2 separate regions of the Homo sapiens genome follow, and region 1 is linked to region 2. A link means that fine-mapping ties the variant in region 2 to the expression of a gene that starts in the linked region. Tissue or cell type: unexposed skin. Region 2 holds a variant in brackets; the other region holds the start of a gene. All regions are shown on one strand. Distances are between the middles of the regions.

Region 1 (8,108 bases), 71 kb before region 2:
AGTCAAGATGGACTCAGCCATGTCAGATTTTTCTCACTGTCATAATTTTCTCAGTTATAATCTTTTGCAAAGGTGGTTTTACTGGCCTAAGAGATATGGATGAATTCAGGGTGAACAGGACATTTGAGGTCTCTGGTCTCACAGAGCTTACATTCTAGTGGGAGGAGATATAATAAATAAGCAAATCAGTAACATTTCAGTGCTATAAAAAAAATCAAGGTAATAGTGTCTTCGGATGTGTTTATGGAGGCTGCTGGCTGTTGACTACCTTAGATAGTTTATCTGATAGAATGAGGAAAAGAAGTCTTTCTTCTTCTTCTTTTCTTTCTTTTTTTTTTGAGACAGAGTCTTGCTCTTGTTGCCCAGGCTAGAGTGCAGTGGTGCCATCTCAGCTCACTGCAACCTCCGCCTCCCAGGTTCAAGCAATTCTCCTGCCTCAGCCTCCTGAGTAGCTGGGATTACAGGCGCCTACCACCACGCCTGGCTAATTTTTTTGTATTTTTAGTAGAGACGGGGTTTCACCATGTTGGTCAGGCTGGTCTTGAACTCCTGGCCTCAGGTGATCTGCCTGCCTCAGCCTCCCAAAGTGCTGGGATTACAGGCGTAAGTCACCATGGCTGGCTGAGGAAAAGTCTTTCTGATGAGATTGCCAGAGGCGTTTAAACCTGGGCAACTCCATTTTGAGTAGGGGCTAGGTAAAATAAGGCTGAGACCTACTGGGCTACATTTCCAGATGGTTAGGCATTCTAAGTCACAGTATGAGACAGGAGGTCAGCACAAGATACAGGTCATAAAGACCTTGCTGATAAAACAGATTGCAGCAAAGAAGCTGGCTAAAACCCACCAAAACCAAGATGGCCATGAGAGTGACCTCTGGTTTTGCTCACTGTTACACTCCCACAGTAGCATGACAGTTTACAAATGCCATGGCATGTCAGGAAGTTACCCTGTATGGTCTAAAAGGGAAGGCATGGATAATCCACACCTTGTTTAGCATATCATCAAGAAATAATCAGAGCCCTCGGGGGTGCTCTGTCTGTGGAATAGCCATTGTTTTATTCCTTTACATTCTTAATAAACTTGTTTTCACTTTATGGACTCGCCCTGAATTCTGTCTTGCGTGAGATCCAAGAACATTCTCTTGGGGTCTGGATGCAGACCCCTTTCCGGTATAGAGAGAACATTTTAGGTGATGTCATATGTTGAGGAGCTAGCTGTGAGAAGATAAGGAGGTGGGAGTGAGGAACATTGAGAAGAAGAAACGAAAAGTGGGCGGCTCTGAGAACGTAGCTGTACCCCAGACAGAAAAGTACTATACCATTATTATATTGTACTTTGCTTCTGTGTCAGCTTTCTCTATCATCCAGTGAGCTGTACAAATTATCTCAAAATCTTTAACACCTATTATATAGTAGACATTCAGTAAATTTATTTAACAAAGGGATGGATTTAGTAATCATTTCATTAAGATTTCATGTACCAGATACCTCAGAGATACAAAAATGACCAGGTGAAGGGCTGTGCCCTCAGTGAACTCAAAGTTGTGGGAAGCAGAGTTGTGAACAATTACTGATTACTAATACAAGGTGGTCAATGCTATTGGTGCTACTACAGCATTGGAAGGATGATATCTCACTGTATTTGAAAGATATGAGGAAACTGCATAGAAGTGGCAAAGTTAGAGGTGAGTGTTGAAATGTACCTAAATTAGTTGAGGGGTGTTAAAGAAAAAATTATTCAATGATCTTATTAAGGCATGGACAGGCAGAGTGCGTTCAAGACCATTGCAATAGATATAGGAATTACTGCAACAGGGTCTTGTAGTTGGGGGAGGGATTGGGTTCAACTCCGAATATAGCATAAGCAAGTAGAAATTTATAGCAAAGAGCAGGCTGAGGGTCAGTGGATGAAAAATTACTAAGAGGAAATATCAGAGGTAAAGAGAATTCTGGTTAAACTCATCTCAAAGGATTCTTGCTGAAGACAGCCAGGGTAATCAGACTTCACCTGGGGGTGAAAAGCGAAAGCGAAGGATGAGGACCCCAGTCAGATATCTAGGATGGGGGATTCTTACCAAACTGACATAGCACGGTTCTTTGCTAAAACTGGATTTTACAAGAAAGTACACAGACAGACCTAGGACATGGCTGGTTTTCAAAAACCCCAAGAAGTTTAGGAGTAGAGACAATAAGTTAAAACCAGGAGTATATGCAGAAAGAGTAGTAGGCCAGGAAGCGTATTCAGGAAGTGTCTGTGGATCACATTGAGGGACTAAGTGGCTAAGTTGGCTGGACTTCCTGGTTCAATAGGGACTTCCCTAAGGGGACTTTCCCCTAAGCCAAAATGAGTCATAGCTGCAAGCTAAGGGATTGAAACTTCAACCAATCAAAGGGGACTTTCCCCTAAGCCAAAGTGAGTCCCAGCTGCAAATTAAGGGATTGAAACTTCAGCCAATCATATAGAGAGTTTAAGCTCTAGCTGCAGCCTGATGTTTTTAACCAATCAGGCCCACCAACCTAAGAGAGGAGACCACCCCTCATATTGTGTTATGCCCAATTTCTGCCTCCAAAGAAAGAAGAATTTAAAACAAAAAGGCAGAAATGAAATCCACAGGCAGACAGCCCAGCACTGTGCTCTGGGCCTGGTAGTTACAGATTGACCCCTGACCTAACCGATATGTTATCTATAGATTCCAGACATTGTATGGAAAAGCATTGTGAAAATCCCTGTCCTATTCTGTTCTGTTCCGATTACCAGTGCATGCAGCTCCCAGTCACATACCCACTACTTGCTCAATCGATCACGACCCACTCACGCAGACCCTCTTAGAGTTGTATGCCCTTAAAAGGGACAGGAATTGCTCACTCCGGGAGCTCGGTTTTCGAAGATGTGAGTCCGCCAATGCTCCCAGCTGAATAAAGCCCTTTCCTTCCATAACTCGGTGTCTGAGCGGTTCTTGTCTGTGGCTCGTCCGGCTACAAACCCACAAGTGGATAGAAAATAACCTAATCCTATGGGACAGAAAAAGGAAAAGGGGAGGAGTCATAAGGGGATATAAACATAAGATACCCAAACCAGAAATGGCAACCCTTCCAGGTTCCCTTCCACCACGTGGAAGCTTTACTTTCGCTTTCCCTTTACTTTTGCTTTGGCTTTAATAAATCTTGCCACCGCACAGTCTTTGGGTCCACGCATTTCTCTAGTGAAGCTGTAACACTTGCCACTGTGGTCCACGGCTTCATTCCTTGAAGCCTGTGAGACCATGAACCCTTCGATCGAGAAAAACCTTTGATCGGAAGAAGACTTCTCGTCTCAACATTAAAGGACAAAGAAGCCAACTCTAAGGCATGCCATTAGCTTTAATAATCTGAGTGTAATAAATAATAATGATCATAACGGATTAAAACATCAGATCTGTAAAAAATGCATGCATTCATAATGATATCAAACAAACAAAAACTTTGTGGTTAACTCTGGAGTTTGGTAGGGCACCAACTCATGTCTCTGAAATTTCATAATTAAAAAGAACAAATCCAGCATTTACCCAGTCTTTCCTCTATGAGATTATCCTGGTTATCTCAGGATAACCAATGAGTTGGTATGAAAAGATTCCTTTTATAGAAGAACCTCTGGTAATAATAGAGAATTATTGAAAGGATTAGAAATTCACTGCTCTAGGATAAAAGACTTAAGAGACATACCAAAATGCAACATGAGGACTTTTTTTGGATCTTGACTGGAACAAACCAACTATAAAAGATAATTTGGACTCAAACAGGAAAATTGGAATTATTTATAGTACTAAGGAATTATTGTTAATTTTGTTAGATATGATAACGGTAGTTAAATTTTTAAAATCTATGTCAGTTTGAGATGCAGACTAATTTAAGGGTAAAATAATATTATGTCTAGGATTTCTTTAAAAAAGAGGGGAAGGAAACTGAAACTTGATTGGCAAAATGTTGCTAAATGTTGATTCTGAGGGATGGGTTACTTGAGGGTTTGTTATTAAAAGTAGAATCACTTTTGCTTATGTTTAAAATTTTCCATTATAAATAGTTTTCAAAAGCAGAGCCAGTGCCTACCCCACATCATCTTCTGTTATTTAATGCCCAGGACTCAGAAAGGGTCAGCAGTCTCAGATCAACAGTTACTGATGTCCTAACCCATCCTAAACACTGATGCTAATGAGTGTGGGGCAAAGTTCACAGCGTGCTAAGGAGCAACATTTAGGAACCTGACTGGATTCCGCAGCTCTCGGGACAAGCCCCCTGGAAAAGGGCTGGGGGGAGGGGCGGGGAGGCACCCAATTATTCTAGAAGGTTCTGAGATCTCCCAGGGATTTCCGAGAGGCTACGAGGTGTAACTGGCAAATCAATGACTTAAGAGTAGCTTTCTCCCAGCCTCCCCGCTGGCTCTGGAGTATAGAGGGAAGCCAGCCTTTTCCTCCCCCATCCTGCCCCTCCCCTCTCTTCTCATCTTCCCCTCCACTCTCCTCCTGACCCTGGCCTGGCCACTCCTGCTTTCACTTCTCTCCACTCCTCTTCGGCCCCGCCCCGCGGCCTCCTCCCTCCTCCTTGCCCCGCCCCCTATCCCTGCGCGCCGGCGGCCGTTACCATAGCGACGTGCACGCAGTAGCCAGGCCTGACCCGCTGGTCCCTTGCTGGCGGGAGGAAAGAGGCGGCACCATGAGCCACGCAGTAACCATCGAGGAGCCCCAGGCCCAGCCGCAGGTGTCTCAAACTCGGTACCGGGAGAGGTCGCGGGCTGGGAGCCACATCTCCTCCAATCGAGCGTATGATTTTCTGTACGGTAAGGACCGCCGCAGACCTTCCTCCGCGTCCGTCGCCTCCTAGGCCAGGTGGGCTCCCAGATGGTGGGACCTGGCCAGGGGCATGGCGAACGAAACACGACCCTCTGGACTGACCTCTTGCCCACGGTTGTCCTTGGTCGGGTGGGGGCAGCTCCGAGCCCTCCAGGTGGCCGCACTCAGGTTGGGGTCGGGGGTTCGGGTACATCGAAAGGCGCGGGTGCGCTCCGCTTCGGGGGGCGATTTTCCTGAAACCTGTTCCGGGCGTTTTGGTACCCAGAAAGTGTGCAACGATTTGTACACTCGGAGATTCACTCAACGTTCCTGCATAAAATGCCCTACAAAAATGATCTTTTCTCTCCAACTCTCTGGGCAAATCCAAGTTGGGCGAAAAGAAGTGCCAGTTTATCCCATGCTTGTTTTTAGGTTTTTTGTTGTTGTTGTTGTTTGTTTTTTTTAACTTCTGCGTCAAAGCATTGCTTATAGACTGGGTCCGCTGGCTCCTCTTGGGCCAATAAAACCCCAGTTTATTTTAACGGCTTGGTTGTCCATTTTATGTTTTCTCTCTCTCCACGCTCCTTGAGTTCCTTAAGTTCCTGTTCTACACATTTTTGTAGCCTTCTGAGCACCTATTCTAGTGCTGATACATATACTAGGCGCTTCAATAAATAAATGTTTATTGAATTTGCCGTGGCAAGAACTGTAACCAGCTATAAGCATGATTTTTTCCAATTTTGCCCTCTGCAATCCCAGGTTTTTCACCTGAACCTTGCATTGCTTTCAGCAATGTGGTGTTGCCTCTGGGAATCCCAGTCTCCTTTGTGTGGGAATCTAGGGTACACATTCCTAGATAGAGGCTGTGTAATGATTGCTGACATATTCTGGCCAGTGTTTTTCTGTATTTACTCTTGGTTTTGTGAAATAAATCAAGTTAGCTCCTGTAAACACATCACCATGTTTTTTTTTCACGGGTAATTTGAGAAGGAGGACAAACATCTCCCCAAAGTATTTATTAAGCTGGTTGTTTCTTTGATGCCGAAGTGTCTCTTTTGCAGAGGAATTGCTAAATGTTTCCATGTCCCTTGCTAAGAACAGAAATTCACTCAGAGTAGATCAAATAAAAGTTTGGATTGTTATAAAACAATCTCGCCGCTAGTCATGGACAGGAAGCGAAGTATAGCCAGGGCGGATGAGAACCTGGATGGGGAAAATCAGAACTAAGATGCTGTGCTCTCCTGCTTTCTTTCTTTGACCTTATGACCTTTCACCTTGTTAGGGTTGCCACATTTAGCAAATAAAAATACAAGAGGCACCGTTAAGCTTGAATTTCAGATAATGAATAATATTTTAGTATAAATTTTTGTCCTGTGCAATATTTTGGAACACATTTATACTAAAAAATTATTCATTGTGTATCTGAATTTAAATTTAACTGGGCATCCTGTATTTTATCTGGCAACTCTAGCCTTCTTTCTATGTATAATCAAGCCCCAAGTAATGATATTTCGGTCAACAGTGGACTACATGTATAAGGATGGTCCCATAAGATTATAATGAAGTTGAAAAACTCCAATTACTTCGTGACATTGTAGCTGTCATAACATTGTAGCCCAATGCATCACTTTTTCTGTGTTTAGATATACAAATACCATTGTGTTACAACTGTCTACAGTATTCAGTACAATAACATGCTGTATGGGTTTGTAGCCTAGGAGCAATAGGCTATACTATATAGCCTAGGTGTGGAGTAGGCTATACCAGCTAGGTTTATGTTAAGTACCCTCTGATATTTACACAACGATAAGCTCACCTCATAACCCGTTTCTAAGAACGTATCCCCATCATTAAGCAACACATCTCTATGCTTGCTTCCTTCCATCTGACAGAAAGCCTCTTGTGTATGGATTTCTCTTACTATGATAGGGACTAGGGTGGCGTGCTTCTTGACTAATTAGCCCTAAAGCTCACCACCAATTGTATAGCGTCTTTGTGTATTGTAGCTGAAAATTTAAGTTAGAAATTTAAGATTGGTTGTTGGCTGGCCAATGAATTGACTGGCCTTGGGCCAGGTTTCCACCTTGACAGAACTGTGGTGGTGCAAAGATGAACACCTTTCCAGGTTCTTTTACCCTTCCTTATGAAGCCCTATGTGATTAGTTCCCTAGTTACTTCTCTGGCCTCTTATCTACTCTCTTTCCCCTCCTTCATTCTGCCTCATTTGTCCTGGTTTCTTTGCTATTCTTCAGACGTATCAGGCATGTTCCCATCCTAGGGACTTTGCTGTTCTTCAGATGTATCAGGCATGCTCCCATCCTAGAATGTTCTTCAGATATCTAACTAGCTAACTCCCTCACCTTCAAGTCTCCTTACATGCCACCTTCTCAAGGGCCTGCCCCGACCACCCTAGTTAAAATTGCAACCCAATCTTCCTTACCCGATTTCTTCTTTTTTAAAAATAACAACCCTCAAATTCTAATGTGTAATTTGCTAGTTTATTATGTTTGTTGTTTGTTGTCTCTCTCTCATGAAGTCAAAGATTTTTGTCGTTTTGTTGATGTATTCTAAGCACCTAGATAGAGTAGCCAGTCAATAAACATGTGTTGAATGAAGGAGCAAAAAGAGCCTGAGCCTCTTGCAGCTTTTCAGCCTTGGTGGGAATATCCAATGTCTGCATTCAGTAAATCGTATTTGTTGGGTTACTAATGAATTATTAGGTTTTAGGAATTGACACACATTATCCAAATTCAAAAGAGACTTGTTTCTAAATCACAATTCCCAAATTATTAATTTCTATGGAGAAATATGTGTTACCATGTTATCTAGACTAGCTGGTCAGGGTATTTGCCTCCCCAGAGACAAGTCTACTTGGGAAATCAAGTGTATCCAAAGGCTGCTTGTTAATTTAATGGCAAATCAGTTGATTTTAAAGGGTGGTACAGTATAGTCAATCATGAATATTCTTCATCACTTTAAAGATATACCTGATAAACAGATACTTATAATAGCAGGGCAATATTTTGTTGAACTTTGTAAAAATAACAGTTCCATCATCAGCAAACTTACAAACTTAAGGGGTGAATTCTGAAGATAGCTGATTTTTTTTTTAACCGTGTTCACCAATTCTGAGATATCATGTGGTTTGCATCTTTCTAGTGCACCAAATATGGGAGATGGTATAAATGTATTGCTTCTTTCACTTGCAAATTGGCATAGTGCGTATATACAAGGTCTTTCCCTTGAAGAATTTTTTGGGTTACCCAGGCTCAAAAGGAGTTTTGTTCATAGGAGAGAAGAAAGT
Region 2 (8,108 bases):
TACTTTAAAAAAAAAGTGCTTCTTGGGTTTCACCTCGGGCCAATTAAGATAGAATCTTTAGAAGGGGAGCCCAAGCAAACGGATTTTTTTTTTAAAGTTTCCCAAGTGATTTAATGTACATTCCAAATTGAGAATAGATGACGTGTTTCCCAAGGAAATTGTCCCTCTCCAAGCATTTACCATTCAGACTTACTACAGAAGATATGTCTTCAGTCCAGGTTCTAATTATATTTTCTTTGTAAAGCATAAAGAATTTCAAAGAAAAAAAATGTGTGAGAAAACATTGATACTGGACATAGTCATAACACTTGGTACTTCCTCAATAACACACTTGATAGTAATTTCCTGCGTAATCGTCTCTCTCACTGGCGTGTGAGGGCAGGGCAGCAGCTGTACCTAGTGAGTTCATTTGTTTTCATTTGCAGTGCTTAGCCAGTCCAGTCTCTGGCACCTATCAATCCCTTAGTAGGTATTTATTGAATGAAATTCTACATACTTAATGTTTGTAAAAGTAAACATGTGTGTGGTTTTAGAGATCATTTATTATGTCTTGGCATATTACGGTATGAAATGAGTTTCAAGGACATAATTCTAATTTATAACATTCATTCCTTATAAACGTTTAACTTTTTGTGATTCAACTTGTGAATGTTATTATCAAGGAACCAAGTAAGTCATAAAGGAAGGGAGAGGCCTTCTGTATGACATCCTAAAAGGAATTTATCCCATTTATCCTTGTACAAAAGACATTCGACAGCTTAAGAAACCTCCAACAGAAGTTTCAGAGAAGAAGCAAAAATGTTCTTTTCACTGTTTCTTTTATTTTTAATAAAAATTAAAGATATTTTATTAAAACATATCTATAAAATCAGCTTTCAATTATGTCAGAATGAAGAGGTCAGCAATACTCCTCCACTAAAAAAAAAAACCATACAACTGGACAAAATTGACAAAAGCATCCAGGGAACTAGAAATCTACTAGAGATGGGCAGCAAGTTGAAAAGCTCCTAGAGATTCAAGGAGAAACAGCAGAAGGCTAATTCTTTCCCCCACCTCCCATCAAGCTCAATCAGCAAGAATCGTAGTTTTCCAGTTTGGAGTTGGCCAAAAACCCAGTGGCTCTTCTGCCAGAGGAGAAATACTTATAAAGTTTTAAATTTCAATATTTAGGGTCGAGAAGTGGCATGAAATTTTGTGACTTTGCATATACTAAAAGTAGCAAACTCAGAAATGAATAGGGAAAGGCCACAGCTTTGTTAGCCCAAGGATGCAGTCCCAGTTGGGGTGAGCAGCAAACCAACCAGAGTGCTAATGGGGAGATCCTGGAAGGGTTGAGACAAGTTTTCCACATACCCCTGGCTGACTGAGAATACGAAAAAACTAACCCAGAAAAAGGAAAAAAAAGGAGAAACATAAGACTAAAATCAAGTTGGGACAAATAGAAAATAAATCACAAAATGATACACCTCAACTCAACTTTAACATGCATTAAATATTAGTGTATTAAACACTCCAAATAAAAGGCACAGGTGTCAAAATGGTTTTTTGTTTTGTTTTTTTTTTCTTAAAATTGTTTTGAAGAAAAGCAAAACCAAGCATATGATTTACAAGAGACACTTTTAAATATAAAAACAGTGATAATGAAAGTAAATAGGTGGAAAATGATACAACAGGAAAATATTTAGCATAAGAAAACTAGACTGGTTCTATTACTACAGCTGGCAAAAAAAAAATTTCAAAGCAGGCAGTATTACCAAAGATAAAGTAGGATATCTCATAAAAATAATAAATGAAAACCAAATAGTCTTATCCATTTATGCCCCTAATAACTGAGCTTCAAAATTCACAAAGCAAAACTAACAAAAAAAGAAGTAAACAAATCTCCAAAGTTGAAGACTTAACACCTTCTTTTCAATAGCATAGAACAATTAGACAAGAAATCAGTAAAGTTTAGAAGATTTTAACAAAACTACATACCTTTGCTTAACACTAATCAGAACACTATACCCAACCACAGCAGAATACATATTCTTTTCAAGTGTACATGGAACATTTATCAAGATAAGCCATATTTTGAGCCACAAAACATCTTTATATGTTTCAAACAATGGAAATCTTATAAAATATGTTATCTGACCACAGAAACAACTAACTTAGAAATCAGGAACAGATACATATTTTTAGAAAATCCCCAAACATTTGGAAGTTAAACAGTGTATCTCTAAATAACCTTTGGATCAAAGAAGAAATAACATGTGAACGATTGAGAAAATACAACTTCAAAATTTGTAGGATGTAGCAAAAGCAGTGCTTACAGAGAAATGGTAGCTATATGCACTCATGTTAGAAAAGAGGCTTAAAACCAGTTATCTAAGTTCCCACTTAAGGAAGATGCAGAAGAAAGGCAAAGTAAAACCAAAGTAAGTAGTAGGAGAGATGTTTTAAGATACACAAGAGCAGAAATTAATGAAACAGAAAGCTTAAAATGATAGAGAAAATTGACAAGAACAAAATTTTATTCTTTGAAGAGACTGGTCAAAAAGGAGAAATCACAAATTATCAACATCACGAACAAGAGGGGTATCACTATAGTGGAAGAGGGAATGTCACTATAGATCTTACAGGCATTAAAAGGATAATAAAGGAATTTTTGAAAACTTTATGACAATAAATATGATAGCTTAGATGAAATGGAAAAAGTCCTTGAAGCAGAATTTACCAAAAAATATACAATGATAAATAGAAAATCTATATAACCTTGTATCTATTAAGTAAATTGAATTTGTTATCAAAAACATTCCCATAAAGAAACATCCAGGCCCAGATGGTTTCAGTGGTGAATTCCATCAAACATTTAAGGAAGAGATAATGCCAATCTTATACAAACTCTTTCAGAAAATATAGAGGAAGCAGTTTGCATCACATTTTAAGAGACCAGTATAATCATATCATCTGACAGAGATAAGAAAATAAAGTTACAGGTCTATATCATGATTACAATTGCAGCATTGGTGGTATAGTGGTGAGCATAGCTGCTTTCAATGATTATGAATGCAAAAGTCGTTAATGAAATATGACCAAAACAAATCAGAATTCCAAAAAAGAGAGAGACAGAGTATTATTCTGGACAAAGCACATTTATTCCAAAGATGCAGGGTTAGTACAGCATTAGAAATATCAATGTAATTCAACATGTTAATAGAAAAAAGATAAAAAGCATATGATCTTAACTGAAAAATTAACACAATTCTACACTCATTCACGTTTAGAAATTCTCAAAAAACTAGGATAAAAAGGAACTTCCTCAACTTGACAAAAGCATCTATAAAGGTGACAGCTAGCATCATAGCTAATGGTGAAATATTGAATGTCCCCCACAAGGATATCTACCCCCACCACAATGCTATTTAATACTGTATTAATCGTTCCAACTAATGCAATAAGGAAAGAAAAAAAGCATAAAGATCAGAAAAGAAGAAAACAGTCTTTCTTTGCAGAAAACATAATTATTTACATTGAACATCCTCAGTAATACTAAGGAATAACTACTAGAACTATTTAATAAAGTCACAGTTATATCTCATCAATATAAATATATATACATACAAATATATTTTCTATATACTAGCAGCAAACAATTAGAACAGCGGTGTTTTTTTTTAAATTGACTTAGTATCCAAAAAACGTAAAACACTTAAGAATAAACTTAACAAAAGACATGGAAGGCCTCTGCACTAAAAACTACAAAACACTGCTGAGAAAAATAAATGATCTAAATTGAGAGTTATGCCATGTTCACATGTTGGAACACTCAATGTTGTTTTGTAGTCAGTTCTCCTCAAATCGATCTGGCAATTCAATGCAATCACAATCAATATACTAACAGGCATTTTAATAACTTTTCAAAGTTGATTCTAAAATTTATACGGTAAAGCAAAGAATACAGGAATAGCCAAAATGGCTGGGCACAGTGGCTCACACCTGTAATCCTAGCACTTTGTAGGGGTGGTGTGGGGGCTGAGGCAGGAGGATCACTTGAGGCCAGGAGTTTGATACCAATCTGGGCGACAAAGTGACACCCCATCTCTACAAAAACATTTTTTTTGAAATTATCTGGGCCTCGTAATGCACACCTAGCTACTCAGGAGGCTGAGGCAGGAGGATCACTTGAGCCCAGGAGTTTGAGGCTGCAGTGAGTCATGATCACACCACTGCACTCCAGACTGAGTAACAGAGTGAAAAAATGTCAGAAAGAAGGAAAGAAAGAGAGAGGGAGAGAGAGAAAGAAAGAAAGAAGGGAAAGAAAAGGAAAGAAGGAAAGAAAGAAAAGAAAGAAGGAAGGAAGGAAGGGCCAAAATAATCTTGATAAAGGGCAAAGTTGAAAGGCTCATGCTACCTACTTCAAGACTTGCTATAAAGCCTCAGTGATCAAGACAGTGTGATATTGGCATAAGGATAGATAAATAGACATATATTGCAGAATAGGGAATCCAGACATCATCTCATACATGTATGGTTAACATAC[G/A]TTTTTTTTACTAAAGTTGCAGAGCTAAATAATGGGGAAAAGAGAGCCTTTACAACAAATAGTGCTGGAATAACAGAATAAATGAAAGAAGGAAAAATAGATCTTGACATCTACAACACACCAAACACAAAAATTAATTTGAGATGGGTTTCAGAATTAAGTTAAAAACTTAACAAATATCTAGAAAAAAAAAAAACAGAATGTCTTTATGACTTATCTACAGGACTCCAAAGACACTGGTCATTTAAAAATGACTTACAGATGCCTGCAGCTCATTCTGGGGAAAGGTCATTCATTGTTATGACCAATGTGGATACAAAGCCTAACACAAAAAGGTCTTGAACTTTTGGATTAGGTTGTTCTTGTATTGATCACTGTTCTCAAAAGGAAAGCCTCAACACAAGCTGTCTACCTATATCATCCCCTTGTACAAAGAAGGGAACTGAAACATAAAGAAGAAACAAGTCGTCCACTAGCATTGGTGACATCAGCAAAATTGTAGAATAGGCAGCTCCAAACTCCCGTCCCTCTACAGAAATACTGAAAAACAAGAAGCAACTGTCAGAGCCAACTTTGCTAGAACTCTGGAAAAGAGTCAGAAGTTTACAGCAATTAAGAAAGTGCTGAACCAAGAAAAAGCAACTTAAAAATGATAGGACATTTGCCAGTTTTTTAAATTGGGGGGAAAATGATAGGAAAACTTTGTGGCATTTTTACTTGTCCTTGCCACATCCCCTCTTTGTCTCAGCAGCAGTCTTAAAGACAGCATCCCGTGTTCCCAGTATGGGACCCTGAACCCTGGTTCTGGAGGGAGCAGAGCAGGCTTCAATTGCAAATTACTGGAGTTTGTTTGTCTGTTCTAACCTATTCGGGAGCTAACTGAAGAACTTATATGAGGTATGCATCTCGTTTTGCCTAACTGAGAACCCGTGAAGAGGGAGAAGTGACAATCATTGCTCAGAAACATTGTAAGGTGAATACAAAACCTGCAGCCACCTGGGGGCAAAAGATTAAGGTTCAGACATACAATAGAATGTCTGAGGTCTGGGAGCAAAAGCCAGGAAGAGAGTTCCTTTGGGAAATTAGGGCAATTCAAAACTGCCAGTGTGTATTCGGGAGTTTAGAAAGCAACATGCATGCCAGGACAGGACGCATGTTCAGAAAAGACCTGAGAAGACCCTAACCACTGGCTGATCTCTGGGCTCAGTACAAGTAGAAAGTAAAGGCTCATGGGAATATATATATATATATGTGTATATATATATGTGTGTGTGTATATATATATATATATATATTTTTTTTTTTTTTTTTTTTGAGACAGAGTCTCGCTCTGTCACCCAGGCTAGAGTACAGTGATGTGATCTCAGCTCACTACAACCTCTGCCTCTTGGGTTCAAATGATTCTCCTGCCTCAGCTTCCTGAGTAGCTGGGATTACAGGTGCCTGCCACCACACCTGGCTAATTTTTGTATTTTTAGTAGAGACAGGATTTTGCCATGCTGGCCAGGCTGGTCTCAAACTCCTGACCTCAGGTGATCCGCCTCCCTTGGCCTCCCAAAATGCTGGGATTACAGGTGTGAGCCACCATGCCCGGCCTCATGGGGAATTTTAAATGGCCTACCAAAGTGTTAATAGTGCCCCAAGACAGAGCCAATCCACAAAGACTAGAAGAGGAGGGGGTTTTACTTGTTTTGTTTTACTTAGCTCCTGGCAATCAAGGACAGCTCTATCAAAAACACTGGCTGAACACAAGCTAAGCCTTCAGCAATCAAGACAAGCAAACCGTAAGGAACTGGAAGAATCTGACTTCCAGAGTTAAAACACTGTAATATTTGAATGTTCAATTTTTAAAAATCACAAGGCATACAAAGAAACAGGAAAGGATAATGCATTCAAAGGAAAAAAAATAAACTGACAAAACTGTCCATGAGAAAGCTCAAACATTGAAATTATTAGGCAAAGACTTTAAAAACAACTGTCTTAAATGTATTCAAAAAACTAAAAGAAATCATGGAAACGAAGAAAGGAAACCAGGAAAATAATATATGAACAAAACGAGAATATCAATACAGAGATAGAAATTATAATGAGGAATCAAATAGAAATTATGAAGGTGAGAAGTATGATAACTGAAATGAGAAATTTCACTAGAGGAGTTCAACAGCAGGTTTGATCAGGCAGAAGAATGATTTAACAAACTTGAAGATAGGACAATTGAAATTATCCATTCTGAGAAGCAGAATGAAAGAGTGAAGAAAAGTGAACAAAGACTAAGATACCTGTGGAACACCATCAAGTGGACCAACATATGCATTATGAGAGTCTCAGAAGGACAAGGGAGAGAGAGAGACAGAAATTATATGTGAATGGCCAAAAGTGTCCCAAATGTGATAAAAGACATGAGTCTACATATCCAGGAAGCTCAACAAAGCCCAAGCAAAATAAACACGAAGAGATACACCAAGATACAGTATAGGCAGATTGTCAGAAGACAAAGAGAATCTTGAGAACAGTGAGAGAGAGGCAACTCATCCTGTACAAGGGAGCCTTAATAAGATTAACAGTTGATTTCGCATCAGAAACCATGGAGGCCTGAAAACAGGAGGCCTGATGCCACTTCACACCTACTAGGATGGATATAATTTTTTTTAATGGAAAATAACAAGGAGAGGATGTTGGAGAGGACATGAAGAAATTGGGACCCTTGTACATTGGTGGTGGGAGTGTAAAACGATGCCACTGCTGTGGTAAAGCTTGGTAGTTCCTCAAAAAGTTAAATGTGGAACTACCACATGACCCAATGTCTTAGTCCATGCAGGATACTACAACAAAAATACCATAAACTGGATAGTTTATAAACAACAAAAATTTATTTATCATAGTTATAGAGACCGAGAAGTCCAAGGTCAAGGTGCCAGCAGATTCAGTGACTGGTGAAGGGATCTATGATCCCTTCCTGGATCATAGATGACAGTCTTCTCACTATAACTTCAGGTGGAAGAACGGGCATCAATCATGAGGGCTCCACCTTCATGACCTAATCTCCTCCCAAATGCCCCACCTCCAAAACCATCACCTTGGGGGTTAGGATTTCAACATATGAATTTTGAGTGGACTCAAACACCTAGCAGTTCCACTACTAGGTATATATCCAAAAGAAATGAAGCAGAAGCTCAAACAAATATTTATATACCAATGTTTATGGCAGCATAATTCATAGTAGCCTAAAGATAAATGGATAAATTAAAGATGCTATATGCATACAATGGATTATTATTCAGCCATAAATAGGAATGATGTTCTGACCCATGTTACAACATGCATGAACATTATGCTCACTGAAATAAGCCAGACACATAAGGACAAATATTGTATGATTCCAATTACATAAAATACCTAGAATATGCAAATTCATGGAGATAGAAAGTAGATTAGAGGTTACCAGGGACTCAAGGAAGATAACAATGGGGAGTTGCTTAATGGATGGAGTTTCTATTTGGGATGATGAAGGGGTTCTGGATATGAATAGTGGTGATGGTTGCAAAACATTATAATTAATGCTACTGAATTGTACACTTAAAAT

Evidence for each region. PIP is the estimated chance that this variant, and not a neighbour inherited with it, causes the effect.
Region 1: CFAP91 starts here. The variant in region 2 is fine-mapped to the expression of CFAP91 in unexposed skin (GTEx, PIP 0.96).

Annotation. Positions count from the first base shown.
Region 1 is chr3:119,698,411-119,706,518 of GRCh38, forward strand. CFAP91 (cilia and flagella associated protein 91) reads left to right here and starts at 4,612. Exons shown (of 18, transcript NM_033364.4): 1 at 4,612-4,812. The coding sequence starts at 4,689. It overlaps LOC105374064 (a long non-coding RNA gene), which reads right to left and starts at 4,633. Exons shown (of 3, transcript XR_924391.4): 1 at 4,086-4,633; 2 at 2,782-3,011; 3 at 1,458-2,007. RefSeq lists enhancers at 2,113-2,512, 2,232-3,431, 4,098-4,777, 4,771-4,820, 4,871-4,930 and a silencer at 4,491-4,660.
Region 2 is chr3:119,769,620-119,777,727 of GRCh38, forward strand. No RefSeq gene overlaps it. Among named protein-coding and RNA genes, the nearest start is that of NR1I2, 8.4 kb to the right of the region's middle. The variant G/A (reference allele first, on the strand shown) is at 4,526.